7 linked regions of the Homo sapiens genome follow. The protein of the gene in region 3 interacts with the protein of the main gene of each other region in a pairwise test. Each region holds a gene or a part of one and is shown on either strand. Other genes may lie near its edges.

Region 1 (4,240 bases), on a different chromosome or scaffold from region 3:
TAAGCCCTGGTAGGCTTTCTGTCTAAATAACTAAGATGTACATTTTTGATAAAATGGTTTTATTTTTTAAGAGATGCCAGTACATTATAGAAAACAACTTCTGGTATAGCTGAAGTTTTGGTAACTGTAAGTTGTTATGAATTTATTATTTTATGAAAACTTTGGAATCATTCTGTAAAGTTATTTTTTAAAATAGTACCATAAGGATTCTTATTAAAATTTCATATATAATACATATGGAAAATATATTTTTATGCTATTAAATATTTATATCCAGAAGCATGGTGCTTTTCTGTTTTTATTAAGGTCTTATTTTATGTTCTTCAATAAAATGGTATAGTTATCTTCTGAAAGGTCTTGTACCTTTCTTGATAAATTCATTTCTAGATACACTTTAACAGTTTTAATGAGGCGTGATTTGCCTTATAGATTGTGCAGCCATCCCCATAAATCAATTTTAAGACTTGTCCACTCCCACAAAAAGTTTCTTCATGCCCATTAACACTAACTCCTACTCACATCCCCAGCCCTAGGCAACCACTGATCTTTCTGTCTCTATAGATTTGCATTTTTTGGACCTTGGATCTAAATGGCATCATACAATATGTAATGTTTTGCATCTGGCTTCTTTTAGTTAGCATAATGTTTCTGAGGCTCATCTGTATCTGTATTGTAGCATGTATCAACAGTTTGATCCTTTTTATTGCTGAATAATATTCTATTGCATGGCTCTATCAAATTTCTTTAGTCATTCAACAGCTGATGGATGTTTGGATTGTTTCCAGATTTTGCTATTATAAATAATGCTGCCATGAATATTTGTAGACAAGTTTTCTTTATGGCATATGCTTTCATTTCTCTTGTGTAGATTCCTGGGAGTGAAATTGCTGGGTTGAACAATCAGTTTATGTTTATCTTTTTAAGAAACAACTAAACTGTTTTCCAAAGCAATGTGCTGTTTTACACTCTCAGAAGCAACGTATGAGGCTTCTGGTTTCTCTACATCATCACCAACATTCAGTAGTGATGGCTTTTTATTATAGTCATTCTAGTAAGTCTAACTGCATAACAAATGACCCCAAAACTTAGTGGCTTAAAATCAAACATTTATTCCACAATTTCTGTGGGTCCAGAATCCAAGTGTCCTAGGTCCTCTGGCTTTCAGATTTCAAACAAAGCTACAATCAAGGTGTTGTCTGTGGCTGTAGTCATCTCAGGTTGATTAGGGGTCAGGGGGAGAATCTGCTTTCAAACTCACTCAAGCGGTTGTTGGTAGGATTCAGTTCCGTATGGGCTGTTGTACTGAGGGCCTCAGTTCCTCACTGACTGTGGGCTGAAAGCCTCCCTCAGTTCTTTGCCACGTGGGCTTCACCATAGGGTGGCTCACAACAGGGCAGCTGGCTTCCATCAGAGTGACCAATTTGAGAGGGCAAGAAAGTATGAGCAAGACTGAAGCCAGAGTCTTTTTGTAACCTAATCTAGAAATGACAGCCCATTACTTAGAGTCTGTCTACCACATTTGTTGCGGTTTTAATTTGCATTTCCTTAATGACTAATGATGTCGAGCATCTTTTTGTGTGCATATTAGCCATTCACATATGCTCCTTGATGAAATAACTGCTCAAGTTTTTGCCCGTTTAAGAAATTACATTGTTTACCTAATTATTGAGTCATAAGAGTTTGTTACATATTCTGGAAACAAGTTCTTTATTTGATATTTGATGTGCCAATTATATTTTCTATTGCTGTGCTAAAAAATTACCACAAGCTTAGCAGTTTAAATCATCCGAAATTATTTTCTTACAGTTGTGTAGACTAGAAGTATTGTAGAGGTCTCCCTGGGCTAAAATCCAGGTGTCAGCTGGTGCACTCTTTTCTGGAGGCTCTAGGGGAGAAACTGTTTCCTGCTTATTTGGGTTGTTGGCAGAACTCAGTACTTTGCATTGTGGGATCAGAGTCCCCATGTTCTTGCTTGCAAACTTGCGACCTTGTAAACCTTAAAGGTCAATCCCAGCTTCTAGAGAACACTGCATTCTTTAGTTCTTGGTCTCCTTTCCTCATATTCAAAGCTACATCAGTGCCAACAGGTCGAGTCCTTTGCATGTTGCATTTCTCTAACCCTTCTTCCTTGTTGAATCCCCCTCACCACAGTCAGGAAAGATTCTCTGCTTTTAAGGACTCATATGATTAGATTGCACTCAATCAGATAACACAGGGTAATATCCCCATCTCAATGTCTAATTTTTTTTTTTTTTTGAAATGGGGTCTCACTCTGTCACCCAGGCTGCAGTGCAGTGGCACGACCTTGGCTCACTCACTGCAACCTCTCAGGCTCAAACGATTCTCCCACTTCAGCCTCCAGAGTAGCTGGGACCACAGGGGTGCGCCACCATGCCCGGCTAATTTTTTGTATTTTTGGTAGAGACAGAGTTTCACCACGTTGCCCAGGTTGGTCTCAACCTCCTGAGCTCAAAGCAATCTGCCCACCTCGGCCTCCCAGAGTACTGGAATTACAGGCGTGGGCTACTGTGCCCAGCCAAGGTCTTTAATCTTACTCTCACCTATACATCTCTTTACCATGTGAGGTTATACATTCACAGATTCTAGGAATTAAGACATGAACATTTGGTGGGGGGGGTGTTATTCTGACTACCACACAAGTATTTTCTTCTAGTTTATGGCTTGTCATTTCATTTTTTTTTTTCTGTTTTTTTTGGAGACAGAGTCTCGCTCTGTCACCCTGGCTGGAGTGCAATGGCATGATCTCGGCTCACTGCAACCTCCACCTCTCAGGTTCTAGCAATTTTCCTGCCTCAGCTTCCCGAGTAGCTGGGATTACAGGTGCACACCACCATGTCCAGCTAATTTTTTGTATTTTAGTAGAGATGGGGTTTCACCATGTTGCCCAGGCTGGTCTCGAACTCCTGAGCTCAGACAATCCACCCGCCTCGGCCTCCCAAAGTGCTAGGATTACAGGCGTGAGCCACTGCACCTGGCTGTCATTTCATTTTCTTATTGATATCCTTTGAAGAACAAAAGTCTTTAATTTTTATGAAGTCTGATTTCTTGTTTCTTTTGTATGTCATGCTTTTGGTGTTGTATCTAAGAATACTTTGCCTAACCCCAAGGTCCTGAAAATTTTTTTATATTTTCTTCTAGGAATTTTTATAGTATTAGTTCTTCAATTTAGATTTGTGATCTGTTTTCAGTTGATTTTTATATATGGTGCTAGGTAAGGACCTAAATTTTTTTTTTTTTTTATTGTTTTTGGCATGTGGATATCCAATTATCCCACTACGATTTGTTGAAAGATTCTCCTTTTGAGGATTTTTTTCTGAACGATTATTATCTAAAGTGTGTTGTTGCTTTAGGGTCACAGTATGCTTGTGTGCATCTGTTACCATGTCACTGTGGTCCTTCGCTGAGTGCCCTTAGGGGACTAGAATCTTTCCAATAAACCACGTTTGAGATCGTATGAGTCAGCGTGCAGTGTAGCCCACACTTGAGAGTGTGGATTTATGTGCACAGTCACTTTGCTCTGGGTGGAAGTAGGTTATAGTTGACTTACTTTCTCGGTGCTTGTTCCTACAGCCCCTCTTTTCATGTGTTGCTCAATCTCCCTATCCCTTCTTGGTGCTTGCACATCTCAGACCCTTTAGCCAGACCCTTTAGCCAAACCCTTGCCAATAACAGTATTTTTGTTCTCAGTTCTGTTCCCTCTGGTTGCGGAGACTTTGAATAAAAATGCACACACCTATTCAGTGGGATTTAGCTGGAAAAGGTGACCTTCCAACCTCACGTCAACTTCTGGCTCCTCAAACAGTAGGTTGGCAGTAAGGCAGGAAAGTTGTTTTCCCATTTCTCACTGAGCAGATTGTGAATATTTCCATATGGATTTTCTGTTGTTAATGTTGCTCCGATTCTTTGTTTTAAAATAAAAATTCTGAATGTGAAAAAAAGAGACTCTCCTTTCTTCCATTGAATTGTTTGGACACCTATGTTGAAAATCATTGGCTATAATTGTAAGAGTTTATTTGTGAACTCTCGATTCTCTTCCATTGATATATATACCTATCCTTGCATCAATACCACGCTGTCTCCTTTTCTAGGTATTTTAAAGTTTTTGTTACTATTAGGAACGGAGTTAAGGTTATTTTGAATCTAAAATATTCACTCAATAATAGACACTAGAGTCTCTACTACAGGGGAAGGGAGGGAGGATGGCAAAGGTTGAAAAACC
Region 2 (3,319 bases), on a different chromosome or scaffold from region 3:
GTCTAACATTATTGTTGTAAGTTTATTATATTTTATTATAAAATAAAATGTCATCAACCATGACAGTACACTTTCTTTGGTCCTGAATATAATTTAACTACTTGTATTTCAACATAGAATATTTTGTGAATGAACTTACAAAGTGGCTATCCTCAAAGAATACGACAAAGCTGTCCAATTTTTATTTTTCAACATGGAATCTATAATTCAGCAGAGGCAAACAAACACATGAACAAAACATAAAATATAACAAGTAAAAAAAAGAAAAAAGATAAAATCAAACTTAAGCACAGAAAAAAGAAAGAAAAATAGAGGGAAAGAAAGTCAGAGGAAGAGAGAGAGAAAATAAGAGAGAAACATTCATATACCATGCAGAGGAAAAGAGGACTGGGGAACAAAGAAACTTCACATTTTCACAGGAAAATGTAGGATGGTACCTGGTTCTACAAGTGGCAAAAAGACACTGAAAGCCAGTAATATGGAAAGCTAGAGCCATTCTAAGAAGGTAGAAGTCCTGTATAATTACAAAAGTAGATGATAAATATATCAAAGTTCATAAGATTTGCTAATTTTGAAAATTTTTGCTCATAAAGACATTGAGACAAGACACATGACAGCTGGAATGCAATAGGAAAAAAAATTCTGAAATTCCTGAGCTTTCTCTTTGTTTCTCTTTCACTTGTTTCCTCCCTTCAGCAGACAAGCATTCGGGCTCTTTGGCTGAAGAGACATGACCTCAAATTGATCTTCTCTGTGACTGTGTTTCAATCGAGCTTCTTTTTGTTATCTCGTCTTTAAATAAATGGCAAGGTTTCTTTCAATTTCTAGCCATTTCTTTCTATCTCTTTGCTTTGCCTGTTCTTGATCTTTCTTCACTGGATATGAGACAGACTTTATAACTGTAGTACTTAATGTATTAATTTACTCTTACCGCCCTAAAAAATCACCACAAAGTAATTTTGGAGTATAGCAATCAATGGTGACAAGATGGATCATTTTCACAAAGGTTCTCATCCAGGTGGAAATTGCACCAGAAAGAAACTAACGTTATCTCATTCCCCACTCTTAAGAGGAAAACATCTACTAGCAAAGCCAGATGTGAATACACAGGAAAAGAGGCAGTTAGCATGTGCCAAAGAAATAGGAAGAGCTTTCCTTGTCATGATGAGCTAGACATTAATATAAAACAGTCATAGCATTTCTGACATAAGTACAGTTCATTGGCTTTGTGCTATAACACGAAAATTATAGCACCCATAAATACAATACATGGAAAACTATTCAAATGCAATTACAGACAAGATTACGCAGTTACACATATGTAAATGAGGGATCACAAATATGTAAAGGATGACCCTGTTGGGCACCACACCTATTGCTGAGAGGATATAAATGCCCTTGTCCAGGATGCGACATTAAAACTCAGAATCTTCTTAGGTACACTCAGCTGAACTCCCATCTCTCATCAGCATGTCCTACAACTGCTGCTCTAGAAACTTCTCCTCCCGCTCCTTTGGGGGCTACCTGTACTACCCAGGCTCCTACCCCAGCAGCCTGGTCTACAGCACTGCCCTCTGCTCTCCCAGCACCTGCCAGCTGCGTTCCTCTCTCTACAGGGACTGTCAGAAGACCTGCTGGGAGCCCGCCAGCTGCCAGAAATCCTGCTACCGCCCCAGGACCTCCATCCTCTGCTGTCCCTGTCAGACGACTTGCTCTGGATCTCTAGGCTTTCGGTCCAGCAGCTGTCGCTCCCAGGGCTATGGATCTAGGTGCTGCTACTCGCTGGGAAATGGATCCAGTGGCTTCAGATTCCTGAAATATGGAGGCTGTGGTTTTCCTTCCCTGAGTTACGGATCCAGATTCTGCTACCCAAACTACTTGGCTTCTGGAGCCTGGCAGTCTTCTTGTTACAGACCAATCTGTGGATCTCGCTTCTATCAATTCACCTGCTAAATTTCTAGATCCTTTTGAGTATTGGGATCAAAGTCTCTACTGAATGCAGCCATTATTTTCATTCTTGCCAGATCCCAATATCTTTTTATTCTTCCACCACCAGCTTCTTGCATGACCAACTTCTGGCAGACTGCGAAATTAATGAGTAACCTAATATTAACTTCTAATATCTTTACCATTGATCGAATATATGCTATCTGATTTTCATCCAAAAACTGTTGAAAATGGAAATTTTAATCTAATAAATGTATGTAATCTGGTACCCAAATATATTGTTCACATTGTTATTATTTTATTATTATTATTTTGCTTACATTTTTGCATTCAAGAATTTGGGAGATTTAAGTAAAAATCAATATGACTGTGTAACTGGATTTGGGGCCCATATAATCTGACAGATCTGAGAACATTTCTCTTGAAATTAGGTATGTTGTCTATTAAGAGTAATCATTTCTGGAAGAACATAGTTTGCATCTGCAGACTTGTCTCAACAGCAGTGAGAATTGTCTAAGAATGAAGGACATGCATTTCTACTGATATAGGAAAGCAGAAAATTTGATGCATAAACTAGAAATGCAGACAACAAGACTAGGATGTAATTTATAAGGTAAACTGTATGCTTGCACTAAAGGTTACTTAAAGTCTAGTATCTGAATGTGGATTTTCAACCAAGAGAAAAGTGAAGCTTAAGCACTGCTAGGACAGACGCTTTGCTCTTTGTTAGTAGACTTAAGTGCCAGGTTTCCTGCCTCCCACTGGTAAGGAGAGTCAGGATCATTCACCAATGATCTTAAGTGGGAATTATTGGGTCCAGGAGGCTTCGGTAACCTACCGATGCTTCTTCAAGGCTCAACCTTAATCAAGCTGACAGCAACACACCTGAGCCATGCTGAACAAGCATTTATATCCATTAGTCTTACTCTGGATCCTCCTCTTCTCCCCAGAACAAGGCTAATGTCAAAGATTTGGGTGCAAACAGTTTATGTGGCACAAGATCCCAGGAAGCAAGTATGAGACACTATGGAAGATGAAAGAATCAAAGAGGAAAATCTAAAGAAAGGGTGCATTTTCGAGTTTATTTTATGGAGAGCAACTTGGCTAAATCTTGTAAGGACCTTTTAGGAGCATGTAGAATGACTCTTGGAATTGTCCCCCACAGGATCAGATCAACATGGAAAAACATTTATCCATCCGCTTCTTTCTCCCATTGGCTGAACAATATCCAAGATGTGTAATTTTCAGGAACCTTATAATTATGCAAGGAAAGAATCACAGTGGGCACCTTCTGTTTTCCTAGTTGTGACCTGGAAGAAACCCAGGTACAGTAAAAGTGGCGTTGCATATGACTGAGGGCAGATGTTGTCCA
Region 3 (4,240 bases):
GACCATCCTGGCTAACACGGTGAAACCCCATCTCTACTAAAAATGCAAAAAATTAGCCAGGCATGGTGGTGGGCACCAGTAGTCCCAGCTACTCAGGAGGCTGAGGCAGGAGAATGGTTGGCGTGAACCCAAGAGGTGGAGCTTGCAGTGAGCCGATGTCGCGCCACTGCACTCCAGCCTGGGCGAGAGAGCAAGACTCCGTCTCAAAAAAAATAAATTAATTAATTTAAAAAAAAAAGAGGCTGGCGTGGTGGTGCATGCCTATAATCCCAGCCCTTTGGGAGGCAGAGGTAGGCAGATCACTTGAGGTCAGGAGTTCAAGACCAACCTGGCCAATATAGTGAAACCCTGTCTCTACTAAAAATACCAAAATTAGCCAGGCATGGTGGCAGGCACCTATAGTTCCAGCTACTCAGGAGGCTGAAGCATGAAAATCACTTGAACCCAGGAGGCAGAGGTTGCAGTAAGCCGAAATCATGCCACTGCACTTCAGCCTGGGCAACACAGTGAGACTCTGTATCAAAAGAAAAGAAAAGAAAAAAGACAAAAAAAGAAGTAGGAGGGTCTAGGCAGAGACATTTGCCCCTGCCCAATTCTAAAAAGTTACTCAATGTCCTTCCACCCCCAGTACCTAACCAAGCAGCTGGACACGCTGCGGCACGTGAACGAGCAGCACGCCAAAGTCTATGAGCAGCTGGACCTGACAGCCCGGGACCTGGAGCTGACCAACCACAGGCTGGTGCTGGAGAGTAAGGCTGCCCAGCAGAAGATCCATGGGTGAGGGCCCGGCTGAGGGCTGGGGGGCGGGCGAGGGAGAGCCCCAGGGCTGAGTGTACACAGGGGCCCATGGACTGATGGGTGTGACTTGTGCACGTCTCCCTAGGAACCGGGGATGGGAGTGAGCTTGTCCTTGTCGATTTTGTGTGGTTTAACATTCAGGCCGCAACCTTGCTTTAAGCACCAACTATGCACCAGGCTCTTCTTTAGACACTGGGGATGCAACGATGGGGAAACAAAGACATTGTCCTGCCCTCTAATACCTCACAGCCTGGAAGAGAAGGCAGGCATGTAAATATTTTATGGCAGTGCAGGACAATAAGTGATAGAGGAGTGACAAGGAACTGAGGTGGCACAGAGGAGAAGCGATCAGCTCGCCTGAGAGGTACAAAAGAAGGGCGGGTCCTTGGGCATGCATAGAATTCCCCATCCTACCTCAGGACCAGACAGCGGCTCAAGGGTACCTGTCTGCCTCCTACCCAACGTCCCTCCATCTTCAGGGAGCCAGGGCTGCCGTGAGGCAAACTGGCCCCATCCCCTTAAAGTCCCTGTGTGTCCACCACCCCGCCCCCAGGCTGACGGAGACCATTGAGCGCCTCCAGGCTCAGGTGGAGGAGCTGCAGGCCCAGGTGGAGCAACTGAGAGGCCTGGAACAGCTGCGAGTGCTCCGGGAGAAGCGGGAACGCAGGCGTACCATCCACACCTTCCCCTGCCTCAAGGAGCTGTGCACCAGCCCCCGGTAGGTGAGAGCACTGCTTGGTGTCTCTGGGATTGCCAGCCATGGGAGGAAGGAGAGGCAGCAGGCAGCAGGGTGCAGTTGGTGCATCATCCAGGCCATCAGAGAGACTGGTCCTGTTGCTAATGACAGTCACAGCAGCTGGCGTTTACTGAGCCCTGGCTGTGTGCTGCCACTATGCTGATATAATTCTTATTGCAACACTGTTGGGGGTGTTTTATTATGCCTACTCTCCAGATGATAAAACTGAAGCCCAGAGGTTGTGTGTCTTATCCAAGGTCACCTGTTTAGTAAGAGGCTCAGCCAGCATGCTAACCCAGGAGGGGTAACCCACTGTGCTTTTCAGTTCCCATTAAATCTAACACTAGACAACCACTTAATAATGGAAAAATACATGTGTCATATGTAGTGGGTGTTTCAATAAGGGTCCTGGCAGGAAACAGTCTCTTACACAGAGTAATGGAGAAGTTAAATGAAGAAGAGGTGTGGGCAGGGGGTAGGGAAACCACAGGGACACTATAGTGCCCCAGGGTTGCAGCAGAGAGGAGCTGCCACCAGCCCTAGGCCTCAAAGCGCAAGGGGGAAGGGAGGTTACCGGCACCTGGAAGGTATGGAGAAGGCTGCCTGGTCACCATTAACCATGGAGAGCCCAAAGAAGACACACCCCACGGCCTCTGCTCCCCCCTCGGACCTCTAGCCAGTGCCTCTCATGGGCCAAGCTCAGGAGAGAACCAGGCAACCTGACAGAGGCGGTCCGTAGTGGTCAGCCTCCGGGGGCAGAGAGCAGGGGGAGAAGGGTGGAGGAGGGTGGAGAGCCAACGGAGAGGGGCAAACAATTTCAGCCCAGAGAACAAGAGAGATGTAAGCGCCCTGGCTGGGCTGCTCGGCCTTGGCCGTGCCCGTGACCACTGCCCTCTCCTCCGCCCCCACCCCGCTGCGACTCTCACTACCCGCCAGGTGCAAGGATGCTTTCCGCCTACACAGTTCCTCCCTGGAGCTGGGCCCGCGGCCCCTGGAGCAGGAGAACGAGCGGCTGCAGACCCTGGTGGGGGCGCTGCGCTCCCAGGTGAGCCAGGAGCGGCAGCGCAAGGAGCGGGCGGAGCGCGAGTACACCGCGGTGCTGCAGGAGTACTCGGAGCTGGAGCGCCAGCTGTGCGAGATGGAGGCCTGTCGCCTGCGTGTGCAGGAGCTGGAGGCCGAGCTGCTGGAGCTGCAGCAGATGAAGCAGGCCAAGACCTACCTACTGGGTCCGGACGACCACCTGGCCGAGGCCCTGCTCGCACCCCTCACGCAGGCCCCTGAGGCCGACGATCCCCAGCCCGGCCGCGGGGACGACTTGGGCGCCCAGGACGGGGTCTCCTCACCGGCAGCCTCTCCAGGCCACGTGGTGCGCAAGAGCTGCAGCGACACTGCGCTCAACGCCATCGTGGCCAAAGACCCAGCCAGCCGGCACGCGGGCAACCTCACACTGCACGCCAACAGCGTGCGCAAGCGGGGCATGTCCATCCTGCGGGAGGTGGACGAGCAGTACCACGCGCTGCTGGAGAAGTACGAGGAGCTGCTGAGCAAGTGCCGGCAGCACGGGGCCGGAGTGCGGCACGCCGGCGTGCAGACCTCGCGCCCCATCTCCCGGGACAGCTCGTGGAGGGACCTGCGCGGGGGTGAGGAGGGCCAGGGTGAGGTCAAGGCAGGAGAGAAGAGCCTGAGCCAGCACGTGGAGGCCGTGGACAAGCGGCTGGAACAGAGCCAGCCCGAGTACAAGGCGCTCTTCAAAGAGATCTTCTCCAGGATCCAGAAGACCAAGGCTGACATCAACGCCACCAAAGTCAAGACGCACAGCAGCAAGTGACCCTTCTCCGGCCTGCAGCCTCCCCCAGGGTGGAAGCCGTGGGGTCCCTCAGGCCTGGGCGGTGCAGCTTCCAGAGAGCGAGCGCCCTTTAGCGGCCTGCCACCACAGCACGCGGCCTCCTGATCCGGAAGCACGCAGCATGTTCCCTGCTGAGCGGAGGCAGCCCACCTGTCCTGCCTCCCAGGAGCCCTTGGCCACCTCGCGCCAGCCCAAAGGCGCAGCTCTGAGTTCAAAGCCAAATGTCCCCACTACCCCAGGGATCCCCCAGCTCCCCCAGCCCCTGGCTTCCTGACCCTGCGCCTCACCCTCAGACTGGTGACCAGGCTTCTGAAAGCCATTCTGGATCAGTTGGCTTTTTTTTTTTTTTTGGTTAAGTTTGTTTTTTCTAAGAGATTTGCAATGCAAGGTCTCCTTGACCCCTTGCCACAACTGGAAACACTTGAAAGGGGACCCCAGGGCCAGCTGTTTCAGGGGTTTCCTGGACCACCCACTGCTTCTCCCCAACCCTGATGCGCTGACATTCCCTTAGCACCAGCTGTCCCACCTCCAGGGTCCTGACCAGGTCAGAGATGTCCCCTGCCATGCAGAGCAGGAAGCCTCAGCTGGGCCTGGAGTGTCCCTGCTCCAGCCCTGCCAGGGACAGGTTTCTCCCTGGATACTCTTGGCCCACCGCAGATCTGTAGCCAGTCAGAGGAGGAGGAGAAGGAGCCCCTCAGCAGAGTGGTGCAGTTTCGCTCAGAGCTTGTCTCCTTGGCTTCCAACCCCAGAAATGCCTGCTGGGCCTTAAGCTTTCCAGGGGCCGGGGCAGTGGGGAGCCCCCATCCCTTCACACCGCCACCAACTAACCAAGCTTGGCCTCTGACTCCCGTCTCTGTGCT
Region 4 (4,240 bases), on a different chromosome or scaffold from region 3:
CCCCATGAAACAAGTGCTGGGAAACACGCTGCTAAGCGAAGGCGTCTTCTGTTTGCGTTACCCAATAAAATCACCCAAGAAGAAGGCTCTGTGGCAGATTCCTGACGCGAGCACATGTTTTAGATGTGCGCAAGGCGCCTTCACATAAAAGTCACTGTCATTAAGGTCCAGTGAAGGTAGCTTCAGACAAAAGTCACTGTCATTAAGCTCCAGTTAAGCTCTACGTGTAGTTTATTTGTTTACAGTGCTGGCTTTGGGAGAATGAGACCCAGGATCTATTCCAGCTGTGTCACTTACTGTTTGCCCTGGCCAAGTTAATGAACGTCCCTGAGCTTGACTTTCCTCATCTGTGAAAAGTGAATAGCAACACACACTTCAGGCTTAGCTGTGATTATTTAGTGAGACAATATACTTAATCTCAATGCTCAGGGTCTGATACCCAGTTAAGCGTATTGAATGCTGGCTGGTGCTACCATTATAGCATGCAGAAATGTGTACCACATCCATAACTATCACTTTTCTAGTAGCCACATTAAAAAAATCAAAAGGAGGCCGGGTGCCCTGGCTCACACCTGTAATCCCAGCCCTTCGGAAGGCCGAGGCAGGTGGATCACCTAAGGTCAGGAATTTGAGACCAGCCTAGCCAACATGGTGAAACCCCATCTCTACTAATAATACAAAAATTAGCTGGGTGTGCTGGCGCACACCTGTAACTCCAACTACTTGGGAGGCTGAGAAAGGAGAATCGCTAGAATTTAGGAGGCAGAGGTTGCAGTGAGCTGAGATCATGCCTCTGTACTCCAACCTGGGAGACAGAGCAAGAGACTCTGTCTCAAAAAAAAAAAAAAATCAAAAGGAACAGGTGAAATTAAGTATTTTACTTTACCCAAGATATACAAAATATCATCAGTTCCATATATAAGGAATATACAATTATTAATGTGGCATTATCTTTTCCTTCTACCAAGTCTTTGAAATCCGGTAGTTTACATGTATAGCACACCTCAATCCAGACTAGCCTCATTTCCTGTGCTCAAGAGCCACATGTGGCTTGTGGTGACTGCACTGGACGGTGCGGCTGTAGACCTCTAGCTACCCCAGCAAGCAGAGTAGATCCATACGTCTCTCCCTAAGTATCACATTCTCCCACTACAGAAATCAGAAATGATCTTCTCATATAGTACTAAGTTAAATTCACATGCTGATAGTTTTTCAGCCCCTTCTACTTCAGCCTTCAGATTACTAACAAGTAGACAAGTCGGGCACGGTGGGTCATGCGTGTAATCCCAGCACTTTGGGAGGCGGAGGTGGGTGGATCACTTGAGGTCAGGAGTTCAAGACCAGGCTGGCCAACATGGTGAAACCCTGTCTCTACTGAAAATACAAAAATTAGCTGGGCATGGTAGCAGGTGCTTATAATCCCAGCTAGTCACTCAGGAGGCTGAGGCAGGAGAATCGCTTGAACCTGGGAGGCAGAGGTTGCAGTGAGTTGAAATGTCACACCACTGCACTGCAGCTAGGGAGACAGAGGTTGCAGTGAGTTGAAATCTCACACCACTGCACTGCAGCTTGGGAGACAGAGCAAGACTCTGTCTTTAAAAAAAAAAAAAAAAAAAAAGAATAATAGACAAGTTTCTGTGATGCACAATACACAACAATTTTAGTGATGATCCCCAAACACTAAGCACAGGGGTCTGTGTATTCGTAGTGAAAAATGACCAGATGACAATGAAGGAACTTCTAAGTGATAAGCTAGAGGGGGTCAAGGAATGGCAGGGGTGGCCTATGATGTTTTTAATGAAATGAACAACCTTCAAAACCACCGTGTGGCTAAGAACTGCTAAGAAAAAGCAGCACTTAGCTCAGTACTAACCAGAAAGGCGGGAGAAGGGGAGGCAGGGAGCACAAGCCTTCAGGGATCAGATGCACGAGTGACCTGTCAACCCACAAGGGTCATGGGCTTAGCAGGTCTGCAGCACAGATAAGCACCTCTGGCAGCACCAGCCATGACAGCATTGCTTTGGACGGTCTATGGCTTTATCTTCAAAGACAGCGCAAGATGAAAGAGAAGTGATGGGATTTTAGGGGAAGTGGGAGTAACTTTTTCCCTTTCTGTAGTCAGAAGAGGAACTAATTTAATGCAAAATATATTTTTCCAAGTTTTCAATTTAAGGGAGTAATACACTTTTGACGTGAGATATTGATAGAACTTTCCCCACTTATATTAACATACTTTTCTCATGATCATTTGACTAACAAAGTTAACACAGGGTTTCTGAGAGGTAGATTCAAAACCCTACAAGCGAGAAATGTAAGCAAAGAAACTGAAATTATTATTTTAAGTCATCACAAGGAGACCAATTCAGCAAACACGAGAAACCCAAAGTCTAACAGAGTCTGGGCCATTGACTCTAGTGGCAAGAACCCTTTGGCTGCTAGTCCCCAAGGTCACCCCATCACACTAATATATGTTATGTTCACAGTGAACATGGTGCCCAGAAGAGACCCAATTATATCTGAAAAACTCTGACTGGGGAATCCAAGAAGGTGCATAAACCAGTTTAGAAAGAAAAAGAGTTATGTTTCAGTTTGGCCATGTTATTTGTTGGAGGAAAAGTTGTATTTTGGATAGTGCAGAATAATGTAAAATCCAACAGAACTGGGCATCTATTGGTGGTATAACCTTGCATATATTACTCAACTTATCTAAGTTTCATGGCCAGCTTCAGTGGCTCAGGCCTGTAATCCCAGCACTTTGGGAGGCCCAGGTGGGCAGATCGTTTGAGGTCTGGGGTTCAAGACCAGCCTGGCCAACATGGAGAAACCCCACCTCTACTAAAAATTCAAAAATTAGCTGGGTGTGGTGGCACATGCCTGTAATCCCAGCTACTTGGGAGGCTGAGGCAGGAGAATTGCTTGAACCCGGGAGACGAAGGTTGCATTGAGCCAAGATTGTACCACTGCACTCCAACCAGGGCGACAGAGTGAGACTCCATCTCAAACAAACAAACAAGCAAAAAAAAAAATGAACTTCTCTAAGTCTCATCATCTGTAAAACAGGACTGTCACTGCTGACTTTGCAGAAGTTTTGTGAAGGTTAGGCATTATATGCATAAATGTGCTTCACATAGTGTCTGAAACAGGAGGTGTTTCATAAATAGTTGTATTGATCATAACAAGAGGAAATGACATATTTCTGTTTATTTCCTTGTCATGATAAAGGCATCACTGGAAAAAAGTTTTAATAAAAGACAGTAAAAAGTAAAGGACGCTACACTGACCTCCTTTGTGAACCTGGGCATATACCAGGGATGCAAGAGAGATTCATTTTCTCAATCTTTGAAACCATATGTGATTTTACAAAATTTTATTTTCCTGGTTTAATGAAACATGAAAAGAGACGGTCTTAGATGCCTCTGCAAGTGACCTTGAAAAGTGTGCTGTGTTTTCACAACTTTGGTATTCACCCATGACAGACTTCGCATGTAAACAGCAAGGCGGGGGTGTGGGGGTTAGTGAGAACGGAGTGAGGAGGGTGGACAATGTGTATTTTTCTGTGTCTGTATGTGTATATGCTTTAAGTCTTTTTTTTTTTTTTTTTTTTTTTGACACACAGTCTCACTCTGTCACCCAGGGTGGAGTGCAGAGGTGTGATTTCAGTTCAGTGTGGCCTCGATCTCCTGAGCTCAAGCAATTACACCACCTCAGCCTCCCAAGTAGTTGGGACTATAGGCATGTACCACCATGCCCAGCTAATTTTTTATTTTTCCTAAAGAAAAGGTCTCACTATATTTCCAGGCTGGTCAGAACTCCTGGACTCAAGTGATCCTCCTACCTCGGCCACCCAAAGTGCTGCAATGACAGGCATGAGCCACTGCACCTTGTCTGCTTTAAGTCTTAATGTACAAAGATTTCCTCCCCCATGGTCTCAAAAGAACCCTCTCAAACTACCAGAGATTCCTTTGATAACGAGGAAAAGTTTACATCTGAGAAACTCATTCACACTAAAAAAAGATAGTATTATGATTTTTTTCCTTATAGCAATTCCTTACATTTTAACAGGAGGTGTTCCCTAAAAAGATACCTCAAAGAAAAATCTCTGAGGTCTAAGAAATGCAAACACAATTGCTATAAATATACTGACACAAGAACTTTGTGTTCTAGTAGTAGCATATTAGGAACCAGTAACAATAAAGGAGATAGAAACCTTTCTTAATACCCCTCAAATCAAACCTCATAG
Region 5 (4,240 bases), on a different chromosome or scaffold from region 3:
TACTTGGGAAGCTGAAGCAGGAGAATCGCTTGAACCCGGGAGACAGAGGTTGCAGTGAGCCAAGATTGCACCACTGCACTCCAGCCTGGGCAATAGAGCAAGACTCTGTCTAAAAAAATAAATTAATTAAAAATTTTAAACATTTAATTCTACCTGCTTATCAAATTTCTTTATATAAAACATAATTACAAATTTGATATCTTTAGTTCTTTAAAACATTCCAAACACCTAACTGGGCAGACTTACAAATCTTGTAAATAAAATCTTGATAAACACAGCTGTTATAAATCTAATGAATTGGACTTATAAATTTAGTAAATCAAATTACCCTTCTTATCTCAGAATACAGTCACCAGCTAAGGTGGCAGGCTTATGTAGCATTTCAGCTATCTTTAAAAAAAAAAAAAGAGTGAAAGAAGAGTATTGATTTAAAAACTATGGCTATGCCTGTGTTCTAGTTGGTCACAAATTAGTTTTTGTTTTAGTTTTTCATTATTTCTGTACTTAATTTAATTTCTCTAGAGCTACAGTAATCCTACATGTTTTTTAAAAAAAGGAAAAATACCATTTCAAATAAGCCAAGGTTATACGCCCGGATTATTTGCTGATTAATCTTTTTACCCAAAGAAATTTGAACTTGACTATACCAGATGGACCCTAATTCTCTTTTCTTAGGCACTTGCCAAGACCCCAGGTCTTACTTTACTCAGTGATGAATCACTTGCATGAAAACCTTCTAGGCTACAGTTGCACCTGGTTTTGTAATGGTTTTGACATGAGACATTATTCAGATAGAAGGAATTGTTTCCGTTATTGGCTCTAATCAGTTTAGTAGTTCCCATTGATCTTCATGCCCAACATTCTAAATCTCCCAGTAAGGAGGGTAGGAGTGAAAGTCAGGGAGACAGTGCAGCTATGAACTAAAGTTTTCATGGGCTCTGTTTCTGTTGGAGAGATGCCCAGCTGGGGTATGGGAGGCCCACGTGTCAGTGATGGGGAGTTAAAGCAAAAGAGGAGGTGAAAAGAATCAAGGGAGGAGACGTTGGATGGGAGGAGAATAAAGTGGGATGTAGGTGATAAAGTAACAGTAGAGAACACAAAGAGAAGCAAGCAGTCAGCAAAAGAAAAACAGAAGAGGCATGAAACTGTATATGGAAAAATTCAAAATATTTCACACAAAAAATTAAAAAACAGGAGAGGAGAGAGATGAAGAGTCAGTAGGGGGTCGAGATAGCAGGAAAAAATAAGCAGCAGCAGAAGAAAAGATATAAAAGCAAGTGAACTACAGAGAGAAAAACAGAACATTTTTAAAAAGAGGGAGCTAGCAGAACAGTAGGAATAGAAATAACCAGAAAAAGTTTAGCATTTCAGATTTTTTTTTTTTTTTTGAGATGAGTTTCGCTCTGCTGCCCAGGCTGGAGTGCAGTGGCACGATTTCGGCTAACTGCAACCTCTGCCTCCTGGGTTCAATTGATTCTTACGCCTCAGCCTCCAGAGCAGTTGGGATTACAGGTGCCTGCCACAACACCCACCTATTTTTTTTGTATTTTTCCTAGAGACGGGGTTTCACCATGTTGGCCAGGCTGGTCTCGAACTCCTGACCTCAGGTGATCCACCCGTTTCAGCCTCCCAAAGTGGTGGGATTACATGAGCCACTGCACCCGGCTTTTTTTTTTTTTTTTCTTTGAGATAGAGTCTTGCTTTGTCTGGCCCAGGCTGGAGTGCAAGTGCAGTGGTGCAGTCTCAGCTCAGTACAGCCTCCACCTCCCAAGTTCAAGTGATTATCCTGTCTCAGCCTCCCAAGTAGCTGGGACTACAGGCATGCACCACCACACCTGGCTAATTTTGTATTTTTAGTAGAGACGGGGTTTCACCATGTTGGCCAGGCCGTTCTCAAACTCCTGACCTCAGGTGATCTGCCTGCCTCAGCCTCCCGAAGTGCTGGGGTTACAGGCATCAGCCACTGTGCCTGGCCAGCATTTCAGATATTTATTGTTTGTCATATCTGGGGCTCTACTGTATCCAGCACTTGGGCATTTCTTTCCTCTGACACTGCTCATCTTGTCTGAATGATTGTGATAGAATTTCAGATTACCATAGTCTTAACCAGGCAATCAAACCAGGCTGTTTTCCTGCCCCCAATATTGCTTTGTACCACCCCAACATCCTTGTCCCACCCACTCATATCATTGGTTGGATGGTCATCCTATAGAATATTTCCCTCTCATGGGTGCTAGTCTCTCCCCTGCGCAGTAGCAGCAGTTATAACCTGAAGCTCACAGCACCACTGCTTATTTCTGAGCTGACATCACCAGTGGGAATACCTCCCTCCTCTACAGGCTTGCCACCCATTCCTGTTACCCTTTATTTCACTTGCCTTATTTCTTGAGCTTGGTTTAATTGACAAACACTTCTTAAGGGTTCACTGTGCCAAAACTGGATTACATGGGTGCACATTTCAAGGTTAAGGAAAGTGAGTGTGCAGAGGAGACAAACATAAAGAACTATGATGTTACTGATAGCAGGACCCCTTTTTGACACCATTAGGTTCTGAAGCAATGTAAAGCATCCAGAGACTAATCAGTGTCATAAAGCTTCAGGGTGTTTTGAAGTTCTCATGATATTTTCTGGCATTGTGGAGCAGGCTATGCCATAACTCAACAAGGTCAGCTTTCCTTGACACAATGCTAAGCTGTTCCCCTGACACAAGGGTAAGAGTTTGCCATGTACAGTTTCTTTTTTTATTCTCCTAGTGTAGCTGTCTATCACCATAGCAGCTCCCCTCCCCTAAGGGTTCATCTTTCCTTCTGGCCCCTCACAACATCATCAGTCAGCCTGAAAGTTGCTGCACACATTCAGAGCACTGACTGTATTCCAGGCAATATCTGAGTAGTTGACATAGAGTAACTCCATTAATCTACTCATGGCCTTATGAGGTAGATACTATTAGTATCCCTGTTTTAGAGATTGGGAAACTGAGGCACACAGGAGTTAAGTAGCCCAAAGTCATGGAGCTAGTTAGTGTCAGAGCAGAGATTTGAAACCAGGCAGTCTAGCTCTAGAATCCATGTTCTTAACCTGTATGCTGCAGGACCTCGCAGTGTTTCATATGGTTTTGGCTGCTGTGGCTGTCTTGGCAGCCAGTGTTACCCTTTCTGTCCGTGCTTATCCTTTCTTTGATATCCAGCATCCTCAGACACAGAAACCTCAGTTGCTAGATCTTTGTTTACAGGTAGCAAATCACCCTAATTAACTGGTGGGTTGCAAGCAAATCCACACTAAGTAGCTAAGGTAAGAAGGCAAGCCTAGGGAGAGGCTTGTGTCCTTCATAACTGGTCTTTGTTGCAAGGGCAGTCATCATACAGCCAGCAGGAGCACTGTCTGGAGATTGGCCCTCCCTGGCATGAGGCAGCGGGCAGCGGGGTTAAGTGTCTAATGGAGGCAAGTGGAAGTGCTGGAAAGACCACGAGTCAGTGGGTTCTGCCATAGGTAGAGGGGAGGGCAAAGCCCCAGCTGAAGAACCTAGAGAGGAGAGGTAACATGTGATGGGATTCTCTTCTTTGATGAAGCCATTTTGTGGAGGTGCTGAAATCACATACTTCGTTTTATGACTTGATGATCCTATTCTTTTTCTAGGCCAGAGAAAGCTAACATTTGTATTTTCTGTTTCTTGGTTCAGGTGCTGAAACCAAGAACCTACAGTTACTGGTTCCAAAAACTGAGATATGTGAGGAAGCTGAAAAACCCCTCATCATATCAGAAAGAATCCAGAAAGCTGATCCTCAAGGACCTGAGTTAGGAGAAGCTTGTGAAAAGGGAAACATGTTAAAGAGGCAGAGAATAAAGAGAGAAAAGAAAGATTTCAGACAAGTGATAGTGAATGACTGTCACTTACCTGAAAGCTTCAAAGAAGAGGAAAACCAGAAATGTAAGAAATCTGGAGGAAAATATAGCCTTAATTCTGGCGCTGTTAAAAATCCAAAAACCCAGCTTGGACAAAAGCCTTTTACGTGTAGCGTGTGTGGGAAAGGATTTAGTCAGAGTGCAAACCTCGTTGTGCATCAGCGAATCCACACTGGAGAGAAACCCTTTGAATGTCATGAGTGTGGGAAGGCCTTCATTCAGAGTGCAAACCTCGTTGTGCATCAGAGAATCCACACTGGACAGAAACCTTATGTTTGCTCAAAATGTGGGAAAGCCTTCACTCAGAGTTCAAATCTGACTGTACATCAAAAAATCC
Region 6 (4,240 bases), on a different chromosome or scaffold from region 3:
AGAACAAAGCGACCCAGCAAGTCCTTGCTTCGGCTGTTGAAGTTGGGGAACTCCCACCGCAAGAACGCTAGCCTGGAAGGAAGAAGAGGTGGCTGACATGCTTCCACTCTCCCAGCCCCTCGGAGGGGAAAGATGGAAAGCAAAGAATATGCAGTCCAACAGCCATGGTGCCCCCATGGCCAACAGGTCCCTGGCCACCTACCTCTTAGACCCTGGAGGTGGTGACTGGCTCCCAGTTGGCTGGGCAAGGTGAGGTGCCACAAAGTCCCTTACGGGCAGAAACTCGCCGTCACTGTCCAGCAGCACCTCAGCATCTGGGGAAGGGGTGTGGGATGAGAACATGTTGGGGGACATCCCTCAGAAACCCCCCCACAGGAAAGATGAACAAAGATGGGACTGTGGGGAGCCCAGGCTGACACCCTGCAGCTCCCTAGGTCAGTACTTGCTGCAGACGGGGTGGGTTAGAAGAGTCCCGTTAGACTCAGGCAATGCCAGGCCCTGTGCCAACCAGGGGGAGCCCTCACCCAGCACCCAGCCATACTGCGTGGCCACCTCGAGGCTGCCCTTGTCGGCGCTCCCCAGCAGCCCCTTCAGCGTCTCCTGCAGCTCCTTTTGCAGGGGGGTCACCTTCCTGTCAAGGGCTGAGGGCCCAGGGGCCACAGCCGAGGCAGGCAGAAGGGGACCCGAGTACTCGGGGTACTCCAGCAGGGCAGTGGCGTTGATGTGGAGCAGCTTCTGGAAGGTGTTCTGATCCTTCTGAGACTTGCCCCCTAGGAGACAAGGAGAAAGAAGAGGGAGGTGGGCCTACGGCCAGAGATGGGGAGACCCTGATGAGAGGGCAGTGCACCCCTACACCCAGTCCCAGCCCAGTTTTCTGGGTCAGGAGGCAGCAGAGTTACGGTCTGCTGGCCACCTACAGGGAGAGGATGGAGAGCGAGGGGGAGGGAGAGCCCTGGCCTCCATCTGCCCCAAATTCTCACCTGGCACTAGGCAGACAAGACCAGGCAGTTTCCCAGTTCCAGTAGTACTAGGGGCAGGGGGCTCACCTAGAAATTGGATGTGAAATTCAGGGTGGAGGACGGCTTGCAGCTCTGCTTCCCGTGCCTGCTGCAGCACACACAGGGCCCACACCAGGTCCACCTGCAGGGCTGGCTCCAGGCCTGGCAGCTCTGACCCCAGCTTCTCATGTACCTGGGCAAGGATAGAGTGTGGTGGAGAAAGCAGGCTCTCCTTAGGGGCTGCAAATAGCCATGGGTGAGACACAATCCATGATGTGGTCTTGGCCTGGTTGGGATGAGGCCAGAGGAGGCTACTAGGTAACAAGAGGCAGAACCCTGGCCCTTGGTGAGGCCTGGAGCAATCCTGGGCTTGAAGGTACCAGGAATCTTCCTCATGCCCCAAGACCACTCTGAACAGCAGAAGAGTGCTGCTGAATGCTGGCATTTGATTAGGTTTACTACAACCAACCTACTGGCAGGGAACAAGATCCCTTCTCCCATAATGTCTCCAAGTGAGCACCTGGGACAAGGAAGGAGGAATCTCTGGTCCTCTGAGAGATGAGAGCATCCAAGAGGTGAAGCAGCACTCCCCAGCCCCTGGCTAATTGTTCTCAGGACTGTGCCAGACAAACCCCTGATGGAATCCCAGGGAGCCTGGGATCACACCTGGCCTGCTGGCCTCTGTGGCTGTCCTAAGGTCTTCATAAAGAAGGCTCCCCCTCCTGCCCTGAGCTGGTGCACATAGCACGAAGGCCCACTGGAGCTTCTGAGCATCAACAGGGCATTAAAAGGAGCACCAGAGGCAGGACCCCCCAGCGCTGCCTGGCAGGGCAGTCAACCAGACAGCAGGATTTCATGTGTTCTCAGTAATCCCTAGGATGCCTGGCTCCAATCAGTTCCCCCTGCCCTCCCATGCCACACATAGTGGCCCCTCCCGCCTCCACCTAGCCCGAGCTGATCTTGGGAGGACGGTTCATGAGCCATTAGCTGAAGGGGAGGATAAAGGTCGAGCAGTGGGAGCCCAGAGGCCCTACCAGGCTGAAGAACTGATCCTCTTGGTCTGGATGGAAGTTCAGACGCGCAAAAGCCAGAAGTACGCTGCACAGGTGGGGCAGGGTGATGTCCTGCGCTCTGTTCAGGACGTGCTGGGTGGGTCAGAAATAGCAGAGGGACAGAATAAGCTCTCTGCCCAGCACGCTGTCCTCCTGCCTGGCTCTGAGTCTGAGGAGAGCCTGCATGGCCAGGGGCAATGGCAGGACCCTCCATCCAGGGCCCATGAGCTGTGTCGGGAACAGAGAAGGACTTACACAGGCCCAGACACTCCTTCGCCTGGCAGCAACTACCCACAGAGGCTGGGGACACCTAGAAGCTGCTTCTTTCTGATAAGGGATTTAGAAATATTCTCCAACCAGTAAACTTAGTTTAGACTGGTCACACATAAACGTAACTGCAGGTGTCATCTTTCTGTACAGTTCCACTTTGCGAGGGGGATCAGTGATTCAGTAGACAGTTCTCAGTGGATTCTCAGTCTCATCAGCCATGCTGCTACCTGCTACAGCTACCCCAAAATGGATGGAAGCACTTATAATGGTCAGTGAAAGAACAGAGGAAACAGTTCTCAAACACTTTTTTGAGAACTGAATAGCAGCCCTTTCAAAATAAGCCAAAATGCAAGAAATATGTATTTGCCCCCACAAGTGAGCATTTTCAGACTGGCTTTACTTTCCCGACTAAGGCAATGGTTCCCAGCAGATGGCCAGGAAGCCAGCTTCTCTGAGTTGGGGCCAGGCCCTGGCTCACCTGGGCAAAGGCCTCAAACAGGGGCAGGCTGAGCCACTTGAGTAAGGCGAAGGACTTGGCACAGTGGGCCACCTCACCAGAAGTCAGGCTGGGCATGAGGGATAGCAGGTCGGTGGCCAGGCGCTGGGACACCTGGGTCTGGTGAAAGCTGAGTTTGCCTTCAGGACAGAGCAGATCACAGGGTTTAGCTGGAGAGAGTCAGCAATCACCCAGCAGCTCCACCCCACCTCAGCCTCGAGGTCTAGATATTTGATGTCTGTAACCAAATTTATCCCTGAGCCTGGGACACAGGAACAGGGCCCATGAGTCACAGTGTTTCTGTGGCAGCCTTCTGGGCCAGTGCCTACCATGCATAGGACAGGTACTGAATTTGACACGGCTGCAGGCATCTGCAGGGCCAGCGCTCCCCTCTCTCCACCGTTCTGTCCAAAGGGCTCACCATAGGCATAGGCCACGTCCAAGAGCACATCTTTCGTCAGAGAGAAGGGCTTCTGCACCAGGTGGTAGGAGATGGCCCGCAGCAAGGGCACGGACCGCCGGCTCTGAGCTGCCAGCATCACCAGCACCTTCCGCAGCTCATTGGGGCCAAAGTGCTCCACCAACTCCAGGCACTGTCAACCACAGCCGCGCAGAGGTCAGCTCAATGGCCTGGGGTGGCAGAGATGAGCTGGGGGCAGGGGTCCCATGGTCCCATCCAGTGCAGCCCCTGTGACAGCCCCTGTCAGACTGGGCCTGAGCTGACTAAACACAGGACCACTGTGCAGGGCCTGCCTCCTCATCCACCCCAGGGAACCCCTGGACCTGGAGCACTGTCCACAGCCAAACTTATCCCCAGGTCCCAGGGTAGGTGACCCAGGGCCCATGAGCTGTGGAGCTTGCTGTGGCAGCCATCTGGGCCAGCCCCCGCTATGACAGAAACGGGCACTGAATTTGACTTGACTGCAGGGCTACAGCCGATAGGGGTTAGCACATCTCCAGGAGAGTTCTAGCCAGAAGCCAGGCCTGGGCAGTAGCTGTGTTACTTCAGGAGCTGCCTGCCATGCCCCCCTCTCAAGATCGTGCTGTGATGGGGTTTGGGGGAAAGATAAAGGTGCAATCAGGGAAGCGCCTGTGTTGGGAGGAGCAAGTGGTGCTTGATGAATGCAGCCACAGGGCAACCACCTGTTGCAGCTCCGAGCCCTCTGGTCCTGCCCCATGTGATGCCTGAGGCTCCAGACAGAAGCTCCCAGGGCTCTGATCCCAGTGCACACAACGCACCCCTCTGCAGACAACTGTCACCCAAAGAACAAGCCCAAAGCCCAGGGGAGGCAGGCTGGGTGCCACCTGCTTTCAGGCCCAGTACCTTGTCTTCCAGGCGGTTCATTAGTGGCTCCGAGAGGTGTCCCACCTTCATCATGACGGTCACTAATGTGTGGGAATCTTCAATTTCTGTCCAACGCCTT
Region 7 (3,660 bases), on a different chromosome or scaffold from region 3:
TTGTAGACACGGGGTTTCACCATGTTGGCCAGGCTGGTCGCAAACTCGTGAACTCAGGTGATCCACCCACCTCGGCGTCCCAAAGTGCTGGGATTACAGGTGTGAGCCACTGTGCCCAGCCTTTTTTTTTTTTTTTTTGAGACAGAGTCTCACTCTGTTGTCGAGGCTGGAGTGAAGTCACCCAATCTCGGCTCACTGCAACCTCTGCCTCCCAGGTTCAAGCAATTCTCCTGCCTCAGCCTCCTGATTAGCTGGATCTACAGGCGTGTGCCGCCATGCCTGGCTTTTTTTTTTTTTTTTTTTTGAGACAGAGTCTCGCTCTGTTGCCCAGGCTGGAGCGCAATGGTGTGATCTTGGCTCACCGCAACCTCCGCCTCCTGGGTTCAAGCGATTCTCCTGCCTCAGCCTCCTTAGTAGCTGGGATTACAGGTACACACCACCACATCCAGCTAATTTTTTGTATTTTTAGTAGAGACGGGGTGTCACCACGCTGGTCAGGCTGGTCTCGAACTCCTGACCTCGTGATCCGCCTGCCTTGGCCTCCCAAAGTGCTGGGATTACAGGCGTGAGCCACCGTGCCTGGCCAATTTTTTGTATTTTTAGTAGAGAAGGGGTTACACACCATATTAGCCAGGATGATCTCAATCTCCTGACCTCGTGACCTGCCTGTCTTGGCCTCCCAAAGTGCTGGAATTACGTGTGATCCACTGTGCCCGGCCCAGGCTGGCTAATTTTCGTATTTTTTGTAGACAGTTTCACTATGTTGCCCAGGCTTGCCTCGCACTCCTGACCTCGTGATCCGCCTGTCTTGGCCTCCCAAAGTGCTGGGATTACAGGTGGGAGCCACCGCACCCGGCCTCTTCAAATGTTTTCTATCATAAAGAACGTGTTAGCACTTCCAAGTACACTTAAGGTTTCGTCAGTTTCTCACTGTGATTCTGTTCTACAAGACTCATATTATGTGCCTGGTTTTGAACTATTACATCTTCCTAATAGATTGTTTCTTTTATAAAAACATAGTGACCCCATGATTCTTAAAATGCTTTTATACCTTAATGTCTGTTTTGCGCGACTAATGCAGCTCCATCAGCTTTCTTCAGTTTCATGCCTACCTTGTATATCCTTTTCTATCCCTTTGCCCTCAACTTCCCATATCCTTGTTTTAGGTGTATCTTTTCTAAAGAACATATGGCTGGTCCAAAAAGAAATTCAGTCTGTTAGAATTTGTCTTTACACTTGGTTTGTTGAGTACAGTCATGTTTATTGAAATTGCTGACATATTTGGATATGCTGTCAAATCCTAGTGCTTCCAGTTCCTGGCAGTGTGACTTTGGTCAGTTACATTCTCTAAGCCACTTCCTCCTCTATAAAACAGGGATGGTTGTGTGAGGACTGAGATGTATATAAATTATTTGGTAGACTGGGCAGCACACACAGGCTCTGAGTAGATTCCCTTTTTTCTCCCTCATCTCCTCCCCTTTTAGACAGACATGGACAGATATGTCTCAACGACCAAATGGGTGAAGATGCTCAGAGCATCAAGGGGATGGAGATCCAGTTCTTGTGACAGAGACTGAGCAAGTAGGAGGCAAAGAGAGGTGCTGATGATTGCTGTGAGTCAGAGACAGTGTGCAGGGCCAGGCTTTGGGTCAGGCACTACACAAGGTGGGTCCTGTCCCTGGTTTACATATGAGGAGGTCATGGAGGTTCAGGAAAGTCACTTATCTTAGGTCCCAAAAGTAGCCACAGGGAGGAGTCAGGCTCTGCAGCCTGAATTCAGGCCCATGCCTTTTCTGTTCCCTCCAGCATGCTGGAAGCCTGTGCAATTTCACTAGGAATGTGCATCTCTCCTCTCTGAGTTTTCCCCTAAGCCTGTCATCCCTCTCAGTCTCTCAGCCTCTGGCACACGATATGTGGCCCTCTCTGCCTGTGTCTGGGACTCCCTCAGAGATACTTCCACAAAGTCTCTGTCTCCCTGAGTCTTACCTTCATGTTATGAACGTTTCTCATCAGTCTCTGTGCCTCTATTTACTCTTGACATAGAGGGAATGGGCCCGAAATACAGGGAGATACATATGGAGAGATGGTGACGGTGACTAGTACACAATACGCCAGGTCAAATGGTTCACATATGATGAGACCATCACAGAAACAGAGGCATGAAGAATGATACACTAACAGTAATGAACAGAAGCTGCAGCATCCAGTGATAGACAGGGACCCTAAAAATGGGACAGGGATGCAGCATTGTGAGAGAAGACCAGAGAACACATGGACAGAATGCTGGCAAAGACTAAGTCCATGACACCAGGGGATCTGGGGCCCTAGAAAATGACTCAATACAGTCACATTTTATTGAGGCCACTGCATGCCAGGCTTATTTGGGTGCTGGCCCCCAGGAAAATCAGATTATTCTTGCTCTCCAGGGTTCAAGCTGCTGGGGAGACATCCATGTAAACATACATAAGGACAATGTGGGGCAGAGACAGCACGGTGACTGCCTCCTGGGGGCACCAGTCACATTCATGTAAGAGACATCAGTCAGGGCCTACTGAGTCTTGTGTGTTGTAGATACTGAGAGTAAGACATGGCCCCTGCTCTCAGGAGTTTATGGTATCCTTGGAAAAGGCAGCTCTACAAGGAGCAAATAAGTAAAACAAGGTGGCAGGAGTTGTAAGAGAGGTATCTAGGAGGTGCTCTGGAAGCAGAGAGGGCAAGCTGAAGTCTGCTCCCGGAGAGCAGGGAGGTTTCTTTGGGCAACATTTGAAACACCTTAGATGAAAAAGGAGGGCCAGGTGCGGTGGCTCACGCCTGTAATCCCAGCACTTTGGGAGGCCGAGGCGGGTGGATCACGAGGTCAGGAGATCGAGACCATCCTGGCTAACATGGTGAAACTCCATCTCTACTAAAAATACAAAAAAAAAAAAAAACTAGCTGGGCGTGGTGGCAGGCGCCTGTAGTCCCAGCTACTTGGGAGGCTGAGGCAGGAGAATGGCATGAACCCGGGAGGCAGAGCTTGCAGTGAGCCGAGATCGCGCCACTGCACTCCAGCCTGGGCGACAGAGCGAGACTCCATCTCAAAAAAAAAAAAAGAAAAGAAAAGAAAAAGAAAAAGAAGAGGAGGGTTCCAGGCACAGGTACAAAGGCACATAAGTGGGAAAATGTATGGCTCCTTCAGGGACCACAGTAGTTCCGTGTGGCTGGTGTATGGAAGGTGGAGCCATGGTATGAGATGAGGCCATTTTCACTGCACGCACAGAAAAATGACAGTATTCATACATGCATATGAGGATAACTGGAGAGGTTGCTCGGGGCCCAGAGCAGCCTGCATCTCAGCATACTTATACCCTGTTCAGGAAGCTGTGCTGTAGAAGATGGGTTGGAGAGCTTTCCACCTTGGAGTGACACAGTCAGATCTAAGTAATATCAAGAGTCCCCTGGAGAGTGATACAGGGGCAGAGAATAAAGGCAGGAAGTGGTCAGGAAGGAGACCCCGGCTATAATCCAGGCAAGAGGCAATGAGGGCTCACATAAGGTAGCAGTGGTGGAAAAGGAGGTGAATTACAGATAAGCTTTAGGTTAAAACAATAGCGCTGGTGACTGGTGGGATGTGGAAGGAAAAGGAGAGACAGGAACATGCTGGGCAGGTGTCAAGCAGCA

Evidence for each region.
Region 1: the proteins of CDR2L (region 3) and EHHADH interact in binary tests that used the Homo sapiens proteins (3 or more experiments, as listed by UniProt).
Region 2: the proteins of CDR2L (region 3) and KRTAP13-4 interact in binary tests that used the Homo sapiens proteins (3 or more experiments, as listed by UniProt).
Region 4: the proteins of CDR2L (region 3) and SH2D4A interact in binary tests that used the Homo sapiens proteins (3 or more experiments, as listed by UniProt).
Region 5: the proteins of CDR2L (region 3) and ZNF35 interact in binary tests that used the Homo sapiens proteins (3 or more experiments, as listed by UniProt).
Region 6: the proteins of CDR2L (region 3) and TBRG4 interact in binary tests that used the Homo sapiens proteins (3 or more experiments, as listed by UniProt).
Region 7: the proteins of CDR2L (region 3) and ZSCAN22 interact in binary tests that used the Homo sapiens proteins (3 or more experiments, as listed by UniProt).

Annotation. Positions count from the first base shown.
Region 1 is NC_000003.12:185,205,304-185,209,543, reverse strand, and holds part of EHHADH (peroxisomal bifunctional enzyme), read left to right. Parts: intron 1-4,240. UniProt on the Homo sapiens protein: Peroxisomal trifunctional enzyme possessing 2-enoyl-CoA hydratase, 3-hydroxyacyl-CoA dehydrogenase, and delta 3, delta 2-enoyl-CoA isomerase activities. Catalyzes two of the four reactions of the long chain fatty acids peroxisomal beta-oxidation pathway.
Region 2 is NC_000021.9:30,428,806-30,432,124, forward strand, and holds KRTAP13-4 (keratin-associated protein 13-4), read left to right. Parts: upstream 1-1,414; 5' UTR 1,415-1,470; coding exon 1,471-1,953; 3' UTR 1,954-2,221; downstream 2,222-3,319. UniProt on the Homo sapiens protein: In the hair cortex, hair keratin intermediate filaments are embedded in an interfilamentous matrix, consisting of hair keratin-associated proteins (KRTAP), which are essential for the formation of a rigid and resistant hair shaft through their extensive disulfide bond cross-linking with abundant cysteine residues of hair keratins.
Region 3 is NC_000017.11:75,000,713-75,004,952, forward strand, and holds part of CDR2L (cerebellar degeneration-related protein 2-like), read left to right. Parts: intron 1-628; coding exon 629-777; intron 778-1,351; coding exon 1,352-1,516; intron 1,517-2,470; coding exon 2,471-3,362; 3' UTR 3,363-4,240.
Region 4 is NC_000008.11:19,319,991-19,324,230, reverse strand, and holds part of SH2D4A (SH2 domain-containing protein 4A), read right to left. Parts: intron 1-4,240. UniProt on the Homo sapiens protein: Inhibits estrogen-induced cell proliferation by competing with PLCG for binding to ESR1, blocking the effect of estrogen on PLCG and repressing estrogen-induced proliferation. May play a role in T-cell development and function.
Region 5 is NC_000003.12:44,655,022-44,659,261, forward strand, and holds part of ZNF35 (zinc finger protein 35), read left to right. Parts: intron 1-3,679; coding exon 3,680-4,240. UniProt on the Homo sapiens protein: May be involved in transcriptional regulation. Involved in cell differentiation and/or proliferation.
Region 6 is NC_000007.14:45,101,301-45,105,540, forward strand, and holds part of TBRG4 (FAST kinase domain-containing protein 4), read right to left. Parts: coding exon 4,141-4,240; intron 3,743-4,140; exon of another isoform or gene 3,606-3,742; intron 3,410-3,605; coding exon 3,238-3,409; intron 3,183-3,237; exon of another isoform or gene 3,049-3,182; intron 2,957-3,048; coding exon 2,799-2,956; intron 2,144-2,798; coding exon 2,033-2,143; intron 1,192-2,032; coding exon 1,047-1,191; intron 771-1,046; coding exon 525-770; intron 315-524; coding exon 203-314; intron 73-202; coding exon 1-72. UniProt on the Homo sapiens protein: Plays a role in processing of mitochondrial RNA precursors and in stabilization of a subset of mature mitochondrial RNA species, such as MT-CO1, MT-CO2, MT-CYB, MT-CO3, MT-ND3, MT-ND5 and MT-ATP8/6. May play a role in cell cycle progression.
Region 7 is NC_000019.10:58,339,913-58,343,572, reverse strand, and holds the end of ZSCAN22 (zinc finger and SCAN domain-containing protein 22), read right to left. Parts: 3' UTR 1,241-3,660; downstream 1-1,240. UniProt on the Homo sapiens protein: May be involved in transcriptional regulation.